Linked DNA regions of Homo sapiens: region 2 is linked to region 1. The links come from fine-mapping of genetic effects on gene expression. A gene starts in region 1. The other region holds a variant in brackets. All regions are shown on one strand. Distances are between the middles of the regions. Region 1 holds the start of HAT1 (histone acetyltransferase 1). Region 2 holds the start of SLC25A12 (solute carrier family 25 member 12).

Evidence for each region.
Region 2: its variant is fine-mapped to the expression of HAT1 in whole blood (INTERVAL, PIP above 0.99).

Annotation. Positions count from the first base shown.
Region 1 is chr2:171,917,380-171,926,065 of GRCh38, reverse strand. HAT1 (histone acetyltransferase 1) reads right to left here and starts at 3,605. Exons shown (of 11, transcript NM_003642.4): 1 at 3,559-3,605; 2 at 425-529. The coding sequence starts at 3,565. LOC105373740 (a long non-coding RNA gene) reads left to right here and starts at 3,677. Exons shown (of 3, transcript XR_923579.2): 1 at 3,677-4,027; 2 at 4,835-4,986. RefSeq lists enhancers at 3,331-3,380, 3,521-4,169.
Region 2 is chr2:171,887,328-171,896,013 of GRCh38, reverse strand. It overlaps SLC25A12 (solute carrier family 25 member 12), which reads left to right and starts at 1,770. Exons shown (of 18, transcript NM_003705.5): 1 at 1,770-1,811; 2 at 2,756-2,809. The coding sequence starts at 1,800. RefSeq lists enhancers at 991-1,557, 1,558-2,124 and a silencer at 1,528-1,847. The variant CAG/G (reference allele first, on the strand shown) is at 5,535.

The DNA of each region.
Region 1 (8,686 bases):
AAAATAAAAAAGACAGAAAAGAAAATTGCCAAACTGTTTTCCAAAATAGTTATATCACTTTACATTCCCACCAGCAATATACAAGTGTTTTTTTCCACATCCTCACCAATATTTGCTATTGTTTATTATTCTTACAGGCAAAAAAGTAAAAAATATTTTTAAGAGGCTAAAACTATATATACTTATTACTTTTTGCCCCACCGTCTTTCCTTTTTATATAAAATTCTGTCACCTTTCAAACATCTACACCTTCCATGACATAAATCAAAACTGAATAAAATCTGAATATGTTCAATAAATGCAGAAAACCATACATTTGCATAAATAACTGCTCTTACATAAAATTTTACTTCAAATTTAAAATGAAAGATTATATATACACACACAGTATGTACATAACATCACTTAGAAATGGCATACATACCTAATTTTAGTTCAATTGCTGTGTTGGTGTTACATTTGTACTCTGCCAGTTTCTTCTCCACTGCACTCTTATATTCTACCAAAAATTTCTCCATAGCACCAAATCCTAAGAGAAAAGGTTTTTAAAAGGTTTAGTTTGGAAGTGACTTAAATTGTCAAACCTGCAATAGGGTTATTATAAGTGGAATAGGGGTATGATTTAAAACATGCTGATAGATCATAAAAGCACAAGTCATTCTCCACATACTCTTAAATAAATGTATTAAGAATGCCAGCTGGGCACGGTGGCTCACGCCTGTAATCCCAGCACTCTGGGAGGCTGAGGTGGGTGGATCACAAGGTCAGGAGTTCGAGGTCAGCCTCGCCAAGATGGTGAAACCCGTCTCTACTAAAAATACAAAAATTAGCCGGGCACGGTGACGGGCGCCTGTAATCCCAGCTACTTGGGAGGCTGAGGCAGGAGAATCTCTTGAACCCAGGAGGCAGAGGGTGCAGTGAGCCGAGATCATGCCACTGCCCTCTAGCCTGGGCGACAGAGCAAGACTCCATCTCAAAAAAAAAAAAAAAAAAAAAGAATGCCTCATTACAAAACAGAAAAAGAAATCACTTTTGAGATACAGGCTTATAAACTAGGAATACTTAATATAAATGAATAAACCTGAAAATTAACATGATAGATTACTAACATTTCTGAACATGTACTAATACAAATTACCTGCTAGGATTTATACCTAAGTCGTCTTTTTCATTATAAGATGTAAAAAGCAAAATGAGAATGTCCTCTGATAATTATGACAGAATTTCATTTTAAGTATTGGAAAAAGTCTACCAGAGTGCTTCAGATAAGGAAATGATAATGCATGGAATGTCTCAAGAAGAATACACAAATATCTGGTAACCATAGTTACCATGGGTAAAGAAAGAAGGAAGAGGAACAGGGGCACAAAGAAAACATCTTTCCACTGTATTAAATATTTAAAAATCATGTATGCCTAAAGTCATAAACTGTGAGCTACTGGCACAATAGTTTTACTACATAGTGGCTACTCAATAATATACATAATAAATAACATTGGAAGATATCACTATCAAGAGAAACTTTCAAGATAACAAATCTCCTGACAAAATGGGCATATGATTAGTAAAAATGGGCTGGGCGCGGTGGCTCACGCCTGTAATTTCAGCACTTTGGGAGGCCGAGGCAGGGGGATCGCGAGGTCGAGACGGATATCATCCTGGCCAACATGGTGAAACCCCATCTCCACTAAAAATACAAAAATTAGCTGGACGTGGTGGCGCGTGACTGTAGTCCTAGCTACTCCGGAGGCTGAGGCAGAATTGCTTGAATCCAGAAGGCAAAGGTTGCCGAGATCGCGCCACTGCACTCCAGCCTGGTGACAGAGCGAGACTCAGTCTCCAAAAAAAAAAAAAATCAGTAAAAATTCAGACAGAAAAAAGCCATAAGCAAAAAATAAAAAGGGGTACAATGATGTGCTATAAACTTCAAAAAGGGGTTAAAACACACACACAGAAAATGGGAAAGACTTGAAGCAGTACAGATTAATAGTCTGGAGTGAGAATTCCTGGATTCTGACTATTTCACACACTTACTGAGCTAGTAAGCTCAGGGAACTAGAGCACATTACTTAACCCCTCTGACCCTAATCTACAGAACCGAGATTACAGAATTTACTTCGAGGAATGTAAGCAACAAAATTTAACCTGTGAAATCATATATTAGCTCAATCTGCACAATTCTATAAGTAGGTATTACATCAACCCCATTTTACATTCAAAAGTTCAGGCTTAGAAAGAGGTTTAGTTGAAGGGCATCCAACTACTAAATGATGGGCCCAAAATTCGAATTTAGATGTAATTCTTAGAGTACGTCCTCCCTCTTCTGTGGTACTTCAAGATCCTACAATCTCCATCTGGTAGAAAAGTCCTTCTTTAAACATCTGTAGAGCTCACACAACAGCTTGTCTATCCCACATATTCATAAAAATGGAATGGTTAATGTAGAGAGACTATGAGGAATGCCCTGTAAAGAGATGATAAAAGCAACAAAGGCCAGCGAAGTGGCTCAATCCTGTCATTCCAACACTTTGGGAAGCTGAGGCGAGAGGATGGCTTGAGGCCAAGAGTTCCAGACCGGCCTGAGGCAATACAGCCAGACTCTGTCTCTAAAAGGTTAAAAAAAATTGTTTTTTTTTAGCCGAATGTTGTGGCGCATGCCTGTAGTCCTAGCTACTCGGGAGGCTGAGGCAAGAGGATCGCTTGAGCCTACGAGGAGTTGGAAGCTGCCCGGAACTATGATCGCTGCACTCCAGCCTGGGCGACAGAGAGACCCTGTCTCAGGAAAAAGAAACTGTCCATAACTTCAAAAGATAAGTAATCGAAAAAAATAATCACACCAAAACAGCCTTAATACACGTACAAAGTAATAGCAATTATACATTATTAAATGTTGTAACTTGAAGGGTCTCTAGAATGTACACAAGAGAATTGTATTATAGTAGTCCAACCCTAAAAGAGAAGGGAGCAGTTCAGGAACAAAGTCTTTCTCAAAGGGCATCTAAATACGATCCTCGGAATACTAAAGTGTGACAGATTAACGAGACGACTACGAAGTCAGTCGAGATCCAAGTGGGAGCGCCAGAGCAGGGCAAGGCAGCAATGCGCTAGCTCAGAAGTTGACTGTAGTGGAAGGTAGACGGAGACCTGGAAGAGGAGGAGGATCTGAGCATTAAAATCAGCTGGCGGGAACAGGACCAGATGTACAAGAGCTGAAGCAAGCAGCAGTGGACAAAAGGAATGGGAAGAGAAACAGGCCCCAAGGCATGTGGCATTTTACGAGCCCAAATCATGACGCTTTTCCCTGGCGTCTTCGGCCCTCGGTAGGGGCCGGATTGCTGGCAGAAGGCGCAGAACCCCAAGCAGTTGGGGGCGGGGGCGCGGACCGCCGCCAACAAGGAGCTGCTGGGCTGAGAGTTCCGCGCTTCCGGTCCCAAGCAGGCCTTCTGGAACCCAGGCTACAGCCCGAAAGTTCTAGGCGGGCATTGTCACCACCGTCTCGGCGTTCTATCCCCGATCTGGCCGCCTCCTCCCCTTGGTAAACTTTTCCCGGTAACTTACCCGCCATTTCCGAGCTACGATCACCCGCGGCTGAGGAAGGACGAATCAACCCGCGCGCTCCCGGGCCGGAAGTGACCGCACAGTCTGACATATTTTCCCCGCCCACTCCCAGCGTGACGTTAGCCAATTAAAGGAGGCGTGTCCAGGAGCCCGGCGGCGGAAGCGCCTCAAGAGGCGGGGCTAACGCCGAGAAGTCTGCGCGGGCCGTTGCCTAGCCACTGCGAATGCCGTCAGCCGCTTTGCAGGCCTGAAGTGGAGAAGGAGGCCGCAAACGGACTTTCGCGGTTGAGATGCTCTCTGGCCCTAGGAAAGTTTCTCTGGGGTTGATTTGATCAATACAGACACTTTACGCCTGTTTTCCATACCCGTCCCTGAGATGTTTTGGAGACTGGCTGAAAATCTTTCCTCTTGGCCTGGACAGTGCATCCAAACACCTGAGCCCTGTGGGCAATTTTACCATTTTACCTAGGTAAAATGTAGAGGTTGAGTTTCAGTTGCGGGAGAAGCTTTCACTTGTTTTCCTCATTTGTTTCTCATTTTGCTGTAAACTTTAACACCTTTTTTCCTTTCTCCCCTGTTTTTAACGTATACAGTATGATATTTAGGTACTCTGCTTTCACTCTGCAGGTTACTAAGAACCGTTTAGCGCGCAAAAATCGTTACCTAGGCCGGGCGCGGTGGCTCACGCCTATAATCCCAGCACTTTGGGAGGCCGAGGCGGGTAGATTGCCTGAGCTCAGGAGTTCGAGACCAGTGTAGCCAACATAGTGAAACCCCGTCTCTACTAAAAATACAAAAATTAGCCAGGCATGGTGGCAGGCGCCTGTAATCCCAGCTACTCGGGAGGCTGAGGCAGGAGAATCGCTTGAACCCTGGAGGCGAAAGTTGCAGTGAGCCGAGATTGCGCCACTACACTCCAGCCTGGGCAACAGAGTGAGACTCCGTCTCAAAAAAAAAAAAAAATTGTTACCTAATAAATACCTCAAGTAGCCTGATGTAGTCTTGCATGCCACATGTCCTAGTGGTTTGAATTACATCACAAGGTGCTACCTGATTTTAGCCATAGGCCTTGTTAGTATTTAGTAGCTGTAGGAACTGCTTTCCCCAGAGGATAAACCACTATTTAGGTATCCACAAATATTCCCACAATGTTGGCTATACACCAGAATTCCTTATCTCAACAAATATTTGTTAACAGGTTTTACAGTGATGCACGCTAAAGCTAAAATGGACCCTTGGGATGATGGTCTAGAACTAACACGCCCTCTCATTTTAGAGATGAGGAAACCAAAGCCCAGAAAAGATAAACTGCCCAAGTTCATTCTCAGTATGCAACCTATGCAGAGTGCAGTTCATCAGATACTCAGCCCAGTATTTATTTGCTCAACTATATAGAGATGGCTTTCCTGAAGATAAAGATCAGAAAAGGTACTGAGAATGCCCAGATCCTTTTTCTTTCTTTTTTTTTTTTTTTTTTTTAGACGGAGTTTCACTCTTGTTGCCCAGGCTGGAGTGCAATGGCACAATCTCAGCTCACCACAGCCTCCGCCTCCCGGGTTCAAGCGATTCTTCTGCCTCAGCCTCCTGAGTCGCTGGGATTACAGGCATGCGCCACCACACCCAGCAATTTTGTATTTTTGTAGAGACGGGGTTTCTCCATGTTGGTTAGGCTGATCTCGAACTCCCAACCTCAGATGATCTGCCCATCTCGGCCTCCAAAAGTGCTGGGATTACAGTCGTGATCCCAAGAAAAGGTTTCAAGATCCTTTTTCTTGAAACCTAATGATACACAAGAAATTACAGTCATAGGCCGGGCGTGGTGGCTCACGCCTGTAATCCCAGCACTTTGTGATGCCGAGGCGGGCGGATCACGAGATCAGGAGATCCAGACCATCCTGACTAACATGGTGAAACCCTGTCTCTACTAAAAATACAAAAAAAGTAGCCGGGCGTGGTAGCGGGTGCCTGCAGTCCCAGCTACTCAGGAGGCTGAGGCAGGAGAATGGCGTGAACCTGGAAGGCGGAGCTTGCAGTGAGCCGAGATCCCGCCACTGCACTCCAGCCTGGGCAAGAGCGAGACCCCGTCTCAAAAAAAAAAAAAGAAATTACAGTCATAATGTTAAGACAGAAAACTGAAATCAATGAGACTAATGACATTATGGATCAAAAAAGGAAAACAATCTTTTTCTTTAATAATCATTTTTGGCTAGGCACGGTGGCTCACACCTGTAATCCCAGCACTTGGGAGGCCAAGGCAGGCAGATCACCTGAGGTCAGGAGTTTGAGACCAGCCTGGCCAACATGGTAAAACCCTGTCTCTACTAAAAAGTACAATAAATTAACCAGGCGTGGTGACATGAGCCTGTAATCTCAACTACTTGGGAGGCTGAGGCAGTAGAATCGCTTGAACCCAGGAGGCGGAGGTTGCAGTGAGCTGAGATAGTGCCACTGCACTCCAGCCTGCTCAAGAGAGCGAGACTCCATCTCAAAAAAAAAAAAAAACTTTTCTTTTCAAAATGGCAAGACTTATCATTTCTTTCCAAAATCACCTTATCTATGGATCAATTGCTGACCAGCAATTATGATCTTTATAAGTAAGAAATCAAGAAGAATTACGTTTTAACTGTGGTATATCACAGATTATTAGTCCTGTGATATTATGGTTAGTTGTAGGAAAAAAATATGATGAAACTTACTGATATATTGTATGACTAGCATTTAATGTGATTTGCTTGCAGAATTGAGGTTTTATATTGTCCTCGTCTTAGATGTTCACTTTTTTTTTTTTTTTTTTTTTTGAGACAGGGTCTCACTCTCACCCAGGCTGGATTGCAATGATGCAATCATAGCTCACTACAGCCTCCAGCCTCCAACTGCTGGGCTCAAAAGATCCTCCTGCCTCTCAGCCTCCCAAATAGCCAGGACTACAAATGTGTGCCATTGTGCACAGCTAATTTTTTTGTTTTTTGTAGAAATGGAGTCTCAGTATGTTGCCCAGGCTGGTCCCAAACTCCTGGCCTCAAGCAATCCTCTCAGCTTGGCCTCCCGGAATGCTAGGATAATAGGTGTGAGCCACCATGTCCATCCTCACATTTTTTTTTTTTAATGTTACAGAATAGATGTTTTGGTACAGTTTACCTAAAAGATAAAAGAATGACTTATTTTGGAAAGGTAATGTGAAAATTACCCAAAAGGAAAAAAATTCTCTTTTTTTTTGTAGGGATTTCTTTCCTTTTTTAACTTATATTTTACTTTGTTCTAAAGAGAATTTAAGAAAGCAACTATTACAATCATGGAATAAAATTTCTATGAAAGGAATATGCTATCCTCATATATATATGGAAGAGACAACATATCTTGTGGGAAGTTTACTGCCCTACTAGTCCCAGTTCTACTACTTCATGCTTGTTCAACCTTGTTGCATCTATTAAGTGGAGATAATAGTACTGCCCAGTCACCACACTGGGTTGCTGTAAAAACTAAACGGAATAATATTTGTGAACGACCTTTGTAAACTCTAAAACTCTATGCAGGTATGAAGTGGTATTACTATGATAACATTTATTCTAGTAAGGGAGATTTGGAAAAGGCATTTTCTTCAGAGAAAAGGGCCATATTACACTATTAGGTATGAACTGGCAACCATGTGTTGGTACAGGCTCAAGTTCATATGGACTGATAAACTTCACTATCTTGCTTTGAAACCTCCAGAATGGATTAAAATTTGGCACAAAAAAATATGGTCATCGGGCCGGGCGCAGTGGCTCATGCCTGTAATCCCAGCACTTTGGGAGGCCGAGGCAGGCAGATCACGAGGTTAGGAGATCGACAGCATCCTGGCTAACACGGTGAAACCCCGTCTCTACTAAAAACACAAAAAATTAGCCAGGCGTGGTGGCGGGCGCCTGTAGTCCCAGCTACTTGGGAGGCTGAGGCAGGAGAATGGCATGCACCCAGGAGGCGGAGCTTGCAGTGAGCCGAGATCATGCCACTGTACTCCAGCCTGGGAGACAGACTCCGTCTCAAAATATATATATATATATATGGTCATCAGAAAATTGATGCAGGAAATCAATTTTAAGAAAAATGCATGTATGTAATGTGTCTTCATTTCAAAATGCATACCTTTACACAGACAAATAACAGTAGTTAGTTAGCTCATTTTTTTAGCTCGTAGTGCTAATGAGCATAAAGTTATGAGTCTCAGTTCCCAGAGCAATTATCCAGAAACCATTATCCAGCTAGATGACTTCCAAATGGGATACAAGAAAGAAAATAGGCTGGGCGCGGTGGCTCACGTCTGTGATCCCAGCACTTTGGGAGGCCGAGGCAGGCAAATCACATGAAGTCAGGAGTTCGAGACCAGCCTGGCCAACATGGTGAAACTCCATCTCTACTGAAAATACAAAAATTAACCGGGTGTGGTGGCATACACCCGTAATTCCAGCTACTCAGGAGGCTGAGGCAGGAGAATTGCTTGAGCCCGGGAGACGGAGGTTGCAGTGAGCCGAGATCCCGCCATTGCACTCCAGCCTGGGCGACAGAGCGAGTCTGTCTCAAGAAAAAAAAAAAAAGGAAAGAAAGAAAATAAAAATGGACCGGCTCATGTTGAAAACTACTGTAAGAGGACCCCTATCCTAAATACACAAAAATTACCAACAGTCTTTATTTTCCAACTCTAATGTACTACCCATACGTGTATAAATTAGTAACTTTTGAGGGGCAATTTAGAAATTTTAACACATTTTTACAAATGTAACAAAATTTTCAATTTGTGTATCCTTTGAGGCAACAACAGTTCCACTTTTAAGCATTTGTACTGCAAAACTATTTCACAGAAATGCAAAGATACACTAAAACAAAGATGTTCAATGCTGTATTATTTTCACTGGCAAGTTGAAAATAGCCTAAACTACTAGCACAAGGGGCTGGCTAATATGTTCTATCTCCTATACAATAGGCTAAAAAATAAATTACAAAAAATATAATGTTATTTCATTTATATAAAAATATATTTTGATATAAACAGAAAACATCTGAAAGCATACCTCACAAACTTAACTATAGTTGCCTTTAGGGGGAATTTAGAGATGGGGATTAATGAGGTTTTTTGTTTTTGTTTTTGTTT
Region 2 (8,686 bases), 30 kb after region 1:
ATTGCTTCACCAAGGGAATAAAGAAGGCTGTGGTCCAAAAATAAGATCACCATCATCTCCACTGCATAATTTATAGGATTTAGAGTCAGGCTGTGAGGAAGACAGTTCAGGAAAAGACATAACTGCAGGAGTACAACTATTTCTTCTGATTTTTGATACCCCTCTCTTCCATTTCCACCAAAACGAGAATTTATTTCAATGACAGCAAATGTTCATATAGGGAGAATAGTTGTACAGTATAGAGAAGCCCTAAAGTGTGTCATTTATCTAGTGTCTAATTATAAGTGGCTTGGGCGAAACCCCATAGCTACTAAAAATACAAAATTAGCCAGGCATGGTGGCGTGCACCTGTAATCCCAGCTACTTGGGAGGCTGAGGCAGGAGAATTGCTTGAACCCAGGAGGCAGAGGTTGCAGTGAGCCAAGATGGCGCCACTGCACTCCAGCCTGGGCGATAGAGCGAGACTCCGTCTCAAAAAATTAAAAATGAAAACATACACAGGGTCGGGCGCGGTGGCTCACGCCTGTAATCCCAGCACTTTGGGAAGCCGAGGTGGGCGGATCACCAGAGGTCAGAAGTTTGAGACAAACCTGGCCAACATAGTGAAACCCTGTCTCTACTAAAAATACAAAAAATTAACTGGGCATTGCGGCGGGTGCCTGTAATCCCAGCTACTCGGGAGGCCAAGGCAAGAGAATCTCTTGAACCTGGGAGGTGGACGTTGCAGTGAGTCAAGATGGTGCCACTGCACTCCAGCCTGGGCGACAGAGCGAGACTCAGTCTCAACACACACACACACAGACACACATACACACAATACACATGTGATTGGGGTTGTGGAGAAGCATTGACCATCTGTAAGCCCCTAGAGGGTGGGGGCTATAGGTTATTTGCGTTTTTTACAAGCAGGACCATGTCAGGCATATAATGGATGCCCATACATGTTTGAATCAATATGTAGCCTAATACAGTGATATTGGCAAGACGGGTTTAGAAACATTGTTTTGGTTCAAGATAGAGTTACTGCTTCTTCTACTTCTTAGGTAGGGCTAGAAATCGAATGGAGAATTACTTTCTGTTCATGTATGGGCAAGCGATTCATTGCCAGCCCTGTCAAAGACACATAGAGTTTTTTTTCTCATTGCACACAGGATTTGGGTGATTAGGAAAGTGGAGCGAGTCTACTAATAAACCGTTGTAATAGCACGCAAAGCAAAAATAAATTCAGCGTATTCGTCCCATGCCAATTTAGGAGCATATTTCTCAAATTATGTTTACGTAGGTTTTCCCTAGAGTGAGTGGTTCCCAATCTTGTTTTGTCGGTATTTGCCATCAGTTGTCATTAATTCATTGTTATTAATGGGAAGTGCTCTTTGATCCGTCGGAACCTTGCTCAGTATAGGCCCCAAATGTTCCTTTAAGCCTCGGGGAAAACGACTTTGGCTGGTCGGTGCCCAAAGCCACACCCACTAAGAGGCCTTAGGAAACCTGGGGCTTTCCTGGCGGCGACCTAGCTGTGGCAACCACGCGGCGCGTCGGGATCCCATGGGTCGCGCTTGTTTTCCCCGTGGGAGGCGCGTCCCCCTCCTCCGCCCGGCCGGCCGGCCCTGGACCAGCTGCCTTTCTGGCCGGGACGCCGGGCCCCTTTCCGCACGCGGCGCGCCCCGAGTTCATTTGCATAGGGACGCGCGCGGCGCCGGCGAGAGGGAGGGCGGGCGCGGCCGGGAAGACGGCGCGCGCGCGCCCTGACAGCTCGGCCCTGCTCGCTCACTCGCTCGTCCCCGGCTTCCGAGCACAGCATGGCGGTCAAGGTGACTCCAACTCTCTGCTGCTGCTTTTATTGCATAAGAGACATTCCGAGCGCCCTGCCTGCAGCCCCCCACTGCTTCCCATTTTATTCATTGTCTAGGTCTTAGATAGCTTGTCCTGGGGCTCCGGCTTGCTGCGGGGAGAGCTGTGCGGGGCTTGGACCGGAGGAGGGGATGCCCGGCTGGGGGAGGGGAAGGAGGAGGGATTGTGAGTTGAAGGGGCTTGTACGGTAACACGGGTCAGTGAAGGAAGAGTAATGTCCTGTCCTAGGTGCATGGGATTGTGAGTCCGGAGTTGGAGGGCATCAGAAAGGGTGTGGGAGGAAGTGGCAAGTAAAGCTGGGGATACCTAGGGTATCAGTGAATTGCGGTGGGGGAGGGAGTAAGTATTGAGTAATTTGGGGCCTCAATAAGGCCGAGGGCAGTGGTTGGCTTTTGCGTTGCAGATTGCAGGGTATGGAAAGTATTTGTATTTGTGGCAGCTCTCATATTTTAGGTTGGATGGGGAGAGGGACGCGGAGATAATTACATGTTGGGTTTGCTTTTTATGGAGAAAGGCTGCTAGGCCAAGTGATTAATTTGGGTGATTTAACTTTCCTGTTGATCTACTCTTGTTAGCTTCTTGATTTGAAGGTGGGTGGTTACTACTGTGTTGCTAGTAGATGTGGAATAAAGTAAAAGATCCTCATTGCCTTCCCTTTCCAGTCCAGAGGAAGCACTGTCCGATAGCTTTGCTGTATCTTAGGCTATTCGCACCTGTTTTTCTGCCCTCTAGTCACAGTTATCCAGTTTGACAGTTCTTATCAGCAATTAGGGCTTTTAGTTTGTTTTAAACTAAATGATAAAAGATAGGAGCATTGATTGTTAGCCATGTGACCTCTAATCTGAAGAGATTGTGTGGTCTCTAGTGAAGCATTAACTGGCTTTTTTTTCTTTTTTGCTTACAGGTGCAGACAACTAAGCGAGGGGATCCTCATGAGTTAAGAAACATATTTCTACAGGTAAATTGGCTTGCATAGTGTGCCTTTCATTGCAAAAACAAAAAACGTACATGTCCTTAGTCCTATTCATGCCTTAACTTTGAGGAATGTTCAGTTTTCATGTATTCTTTCAAACATGACCGGACAATATAGCTTATACTTCTCTTAATAAGGTTTGATTTAAGGCCTTCTTTTAATTAAGGGTCGATAAAAGGTTTTCCTCAAGTTACTGCTTTTTTTTTTACATGACTTAAGATATATATTTTGAAAAAAAATTTCCAGCTTAAGCACAGAGACCAAGATAAAATTTCAAAATGTATTGGCATTCTTGTATAGTTAATAGGTATGATGACTAAAATTCTCTTCCTTGAAAGTTGCATGTTTACAAAGTTTTCCTACTTATGAGCTATCCTCCATGTAATTTGTTACAGAGATAAGAATATTATAGCTATTCTTAATTTGTGTGTCTTACTTACATTGTATCCTTAAGCCTTGGGGATTTTACCCCAAAATGTTACCTCTTAAGATTCTTGCAATGGTCTACCTTAACTTCTAAGCTTTTAGAATCAGTGACTTGGCTGTAGACTTAAAAAGAAAAGAAAAAAGAAAAAAAAAAGGTTGGCTTAGTTTTTTGTTTTGCTTTCTTTTCTTAAATTTCAAAAGTTTCCTATGCAGGAAATTGTACTTAAGAAGTAGATGTAGGCCGGGCGCGGTGGCTCACGCCTGTAATTCCAGTATTTTGGGAGGCCGAGGCGGGTGGACCATGAGGTCAGGAGATCGAGACCATCCTGGCTAACACGGTGAAACCCCGTCTCTACTAAAAATACAAAAAATTAGCCGGGCGTGGTGGTGGGCGCCTGTAGTCCCAGCTACTCGGGAGGCTGAGGCAGGAGAATGGCGTTAACCCGGGAAGCGGAGCTTGCAGTGAGTCGAGATCGTGCCACTGCACTCCAGCCTGGGGACAGAGAGACACTGTCTCAAAAAAAAAAAAAAGTAGATGTAAAGGGAGGCAAGCTAAGGTGTTTCACCAAATATTGCATTTCTCTCTGAAATCTTTTGAGAACTTTCTATTCTGGACCTGGGTTCTTATGAAGACACTTTGACCTTGGGCAGGTCCCTGCTGTGTATTATTTTCCTCTGTGAAATGAGAGGTGATCTCCAAGGTTCCTTCCCATTCCAAAAGTCTATGAGTCTATTTTAGGAACAGATTCTAACATATGCTGATGAGCCTGGAATAGATGACATTTTTATTTGAGATATGTGGTTTGCTTAAGCTATTGTTGGGTAAGACGCTGCGTAGTTGAGCATACATATGTGTAGTTTATGAAAAATAATTTGTGAAAATGGGAATCTTAAAGGTCATAATATCTGATAAGGGAAGTATTTTTTTCCAGAACAGAAGTAATTATAATAACAGAAATGGTCCATTTATGACTTGAAACCTTTATTCCTTGCAGGCATTCTTGAAAATAGCCAAAAATATATCGGTATTCACCATACCATGTGATTATAGTCAATTGTTTTGTGAAGAGTTCATGTGATATAGTTAATTTTATGTTCTAGACTAAGTAGATGCGGAAGAAATGAGTTGAAATGCTGCATGATGTAGTGAAAAGAATACTGCCTAGGTATCTGAGTACTGCCTAGGAATACGGAGTTAATTCCCAGCCCTGCATTTATCTGGTTCTTGTACCCTTAGGCTAATCATCTGGCCTTCCTGAGTTTCAGCTTCTCATGTGGGACTCAGTGGGACATAAAGGAATGGGAATTGAGGTCTTTCTAGCTTTAAAAATTCTATGGGAAAAAAATATACTGTGATTCTGTATGGATTTGTTTTTTGTTTTTGAGTGGGGGTAGAGGTGGGTTGGAGGTATGAGGAGAATGGCGAGGACTGTCCCTAGCTCTTTGACAACTTTTTTTTTTTTTTGAGATGGAGTCTCGCTCTGTCGCCCAGGCTGGAATGCACTGGCGTGATCTTGGCTCACTGCAACTTCTGCCTCCGGGGTTCAAGCAATTCTCTTGCCTCCGAGTAGCTGGGATTACAGGCATGTGCCACCACACCCGGCTAATTTTTTGTATTTTTAGTAGAGACAGGGTTTCACCATGTTAGCCAGGATGGTCTTGATCTCCTGACCTCGTGATCTGTGTGCCTCAGCCTCCCAAAGTGCTGGGATTACAGGCGTGAGCCACCATGCCTGGCCGATTCTTTGACAACTTTTAAATCTTAGCTTTTCATTTACTGTTTTGCATATCGTCATTATCTTTTTACACATTATTTTGATGATGCCTTTATTTTTATGTTGAAAATTTGTGGAATTCATAACTGCTTATTTAGCACTAAGTATGAAACATTGACACAAGCATTATTGATAGATAAGAGAGTGATAGAATGTAAATACTCACCTTCAGAAAGGCCTAACGCAGCAAGAAAGATAACAATATAGGCTGAGTGCAGTAGCTCACACCTGTAATCTCAGCACTTTGGGAGGCTGAGGCTAGAGGATCACTTGAGCCCAGGAGTTCAAGACCAACCTGAGCAATATAGTGAGACCTCGTCTCTGCAAAAAATTTTAAAAATTAGCCACACCTGGTGGCATCCATCTGTGGTCCCAGCTACTCAGGTGGCTGAGGTAGGAGGATTGCTTGATCCTAGGAGGCAGAGGTTGCAGTAAGCCAAGATCATACCACTGCACTCCAGCCTGGCAACAGAGCAAGACCTTGTTACACACACACACACACACACACA[CAG/G]ACACACACGATACAGTATTGCTAGTTGGATCAATTTGAGGATAGTTACCAAGTAAAAGATTTTTATTCCTGGCTTGAATACTTCAAACTATAGTTATTTGAAGCTTTGCAGTACTGTTTAGAAACAGTTTTATGAAACAGTTTTATAGATGCATATAGTTGATTAATATTTTAGCTATAATAGAAGACAAAAATACATGCTAACCGTGTATTTCTTTAGCACTTAACATATTTACCCAACAAATATTTACAAAGGATTATTTGCTGTGTACCATGCACTTTTATTCAATACAATACTGTTCAGTAGCAGACACCAAGTCGAATATCAAGAGAGACAACAGAGCCAAGACCTAAATGCTGATGGACATGTGATTGGACTAGCTGCTCTCTCAGGCCCATGCCATCTCTCATGGTTTGTGGTTGAGGGAATCAAGAATAGTGAAGGCAAATGCATAGCCTGTGGTAGAGCAATCAGATTGGCTTCTTACATCATAGTGGCTGTGTAATAATATTGACAATGGCTAACATTTATTGATCATTTAGAGTGTGCTTGAGATTGGCCTAGTGCTTTAAGGATATTAATGTTAGTTTTCATAACAACTTTATGAAGCAGGTTTAATATCCTTGTTACATAGATGAGGTTAAATTAATGTCAGACTATGTGGTAGAGCCAGATTCAAATCAAATTCCAGAGCCCATACCCTTAACCCTTACATAATACTACTGGTAGGATATTGAAATGGGGTGACTTTTGAAAGACAGAGGTATATCAGGGGATAATGGCAGAGTGTTAAGAAGTTAAAAAAAAATCTGGTTACTTAGGTGATGAAATTTAAAAAGTTTCTTTACACTGTAACTGTCTAGAATAGTTAGCCAAGGAATTTGGATTTGAAACAGTAGGGAGCCACTGTGGGTTTCTGAGTAGGCAAATTGAAGTGGTGAATTCTGGCAGCTTTTTGTGTATGTTGGATAAAGTATGAAGAGATTGGAAGTAGCTTAGGTGATAAGCTGAGAGGCTACTGAAGTAATACTTTTGAGAATTAATGACCTAGAGTGGTTGATGGCTGGGGAAATGAAAAGCAAGGACAATACCAGCGATGTAAGGGAAGAATCTATCGAATTTGGTATTAAATATGGAAGTAAGGGAAGAAGTAGAAGTGAACCTGTCAGTTTTAGGATAGGTGTTAATTGATAAGGCATCTATTTAGATAATATTTTTTGGGGGGATGGGGTTAGTTTGGTTGCTAAACAAATGTATCTCACTAAGTTAAAGTTGGATTTGGACAGATACAAATTTGTGCAGGTGGTAGATGAATTCCTTGTATATAAAGCAAGGCAGAGGATCAGGGGCTGATTTATAAGTGATATCTCCAATTGAAGTAGGAAGGAGGAGGAGGGGAAATAGGGAGAATGGTCCCATGAAAGTTTAAAGTAGGAGTTTCACAAGAAGGATATAATTAAAGGTTAAAATGTAGATTATTCTGTTATTAGTATGATTTAGTTTGGGGAGGATTTTGGGGTCACTTGAGTTTAGAATTATCTGAGCTACTTAAAGACTATAAAGAGATATAATTTTAAATTTTAGAGTACAGTTGAAAACTCTTTGTAAAATGTAGATCTGTGGCATTAACTGTTTAAGTTCACAAATAGTCAATAAAAATTCCTACTTTCAAATAAGAATATTTTGTTAAACTTTTGAGCCATGGGTCAAAAGTCATTTGTAAAACAATAAAATGGCCGGGTGTGGTGGCTCACACCTGTAATCCCAGCAATTTGGGAGGCTGAGGCGGGTGGATCACTTGAGGTCAGGAGTTTGAGACCAGCCTGGGCAACATGGTGAAACCCTGTCTCTATAAAAAATATAAAAAATTAGCCAGATGTGGTAGCGCACGCCTGTAATCTCAGCTACTAGGGAAGCTGAGGCAGGAGAATCGCTTGAACCCGGGAAGCGGGGGTTGCAGTGAGCCGAGATTGTGCCACTGCACTTCAGCCTGGGCGACAGAGCGAGACTCACTGTCTCAAAAAAAATAATAATTAAAAAAATATATATATATTTTTATTTGAAAGTACTGGTATATCAGCTGGGTGCGGCAGCTCATACCTGTAATCCCAGTGCTTTGCGAGGCTGAGGTGGGAGGATCACTTGAGGCCAGGAGTTCAAGACCAGCCTGGGCAACAAAGCGAGATTCCATGGCTACAAATATATGTATATAGATTTAGCTGGGTGCGGTGGTACATGCCTGTGGTCCTAGCTGCTCTGGAAGCTGAGATGGGAGGATCACTTGAGCCCAGAAGTTCGAGGTTACAATGAGTTATCATTATACCACTGCACTCCAGCATGGGTGACAGAACAAGACTTTGTCTCCAAAAAAAAAAAAAAAAAGGAAAAAAGAAAAGAAAGTGGCAACTGACTTATTTATGTATCTATGTTTAGTGAAATTGTATGAGAATTGGTGTGGGAGTTCATAAGAAGGGCTTTATAAGAGTAAAGCATTATTATTTTGAATATAGGGAAATAGGTTCATTTTTCCTGTGGTGTTCATTGCTTCTCAAGTTTTGATGAGCTATGTTTCTATTAGTTAAAAAACATCAACAACAACAGTATGCACTAAGATTCTGCCTTTTTCTGCCCACCTCCACTCTGCCAAGTTCATGAAATTGGAGTACAACAAATGAATTCTTATGTGTTAGGCTGTGCTGTAATTTTACAACTGGTTTAAGCTAAGATTTTACCATTACCACCCTTACAACTGTCATTTCTTGATTTATCCCTTTTTTCTTTTAACCTCTCTCACCCACACACTGTCATTGATTCAATTTAGCTACATCAGCAGTGTACAGTAGCAAAAGGAGACAATAGAAGCAGTGAAGAAGAAGGTGAGGTGGGACAGCAGGAACATAAGTCTGACAAATTTCTAAATGAAGAGTTAATTTTGTCTGTCCCTTGTGGCAAAGTAGATTTATCAAAAACATTTAAATGAATTATTTTTTAATCTCTCTCTCTTTTTAGTTAATAGGCTTCTTTTGTTTGCTGGTGTGTTGTATAGTAAAGGCAATATATGTTAAGACTGCAACTATATTTGCCAGATCAAAAATTTACTGAAATGTAGACCTCAAATATTATTTTAATTTTGTTCTTTTTTCATTATC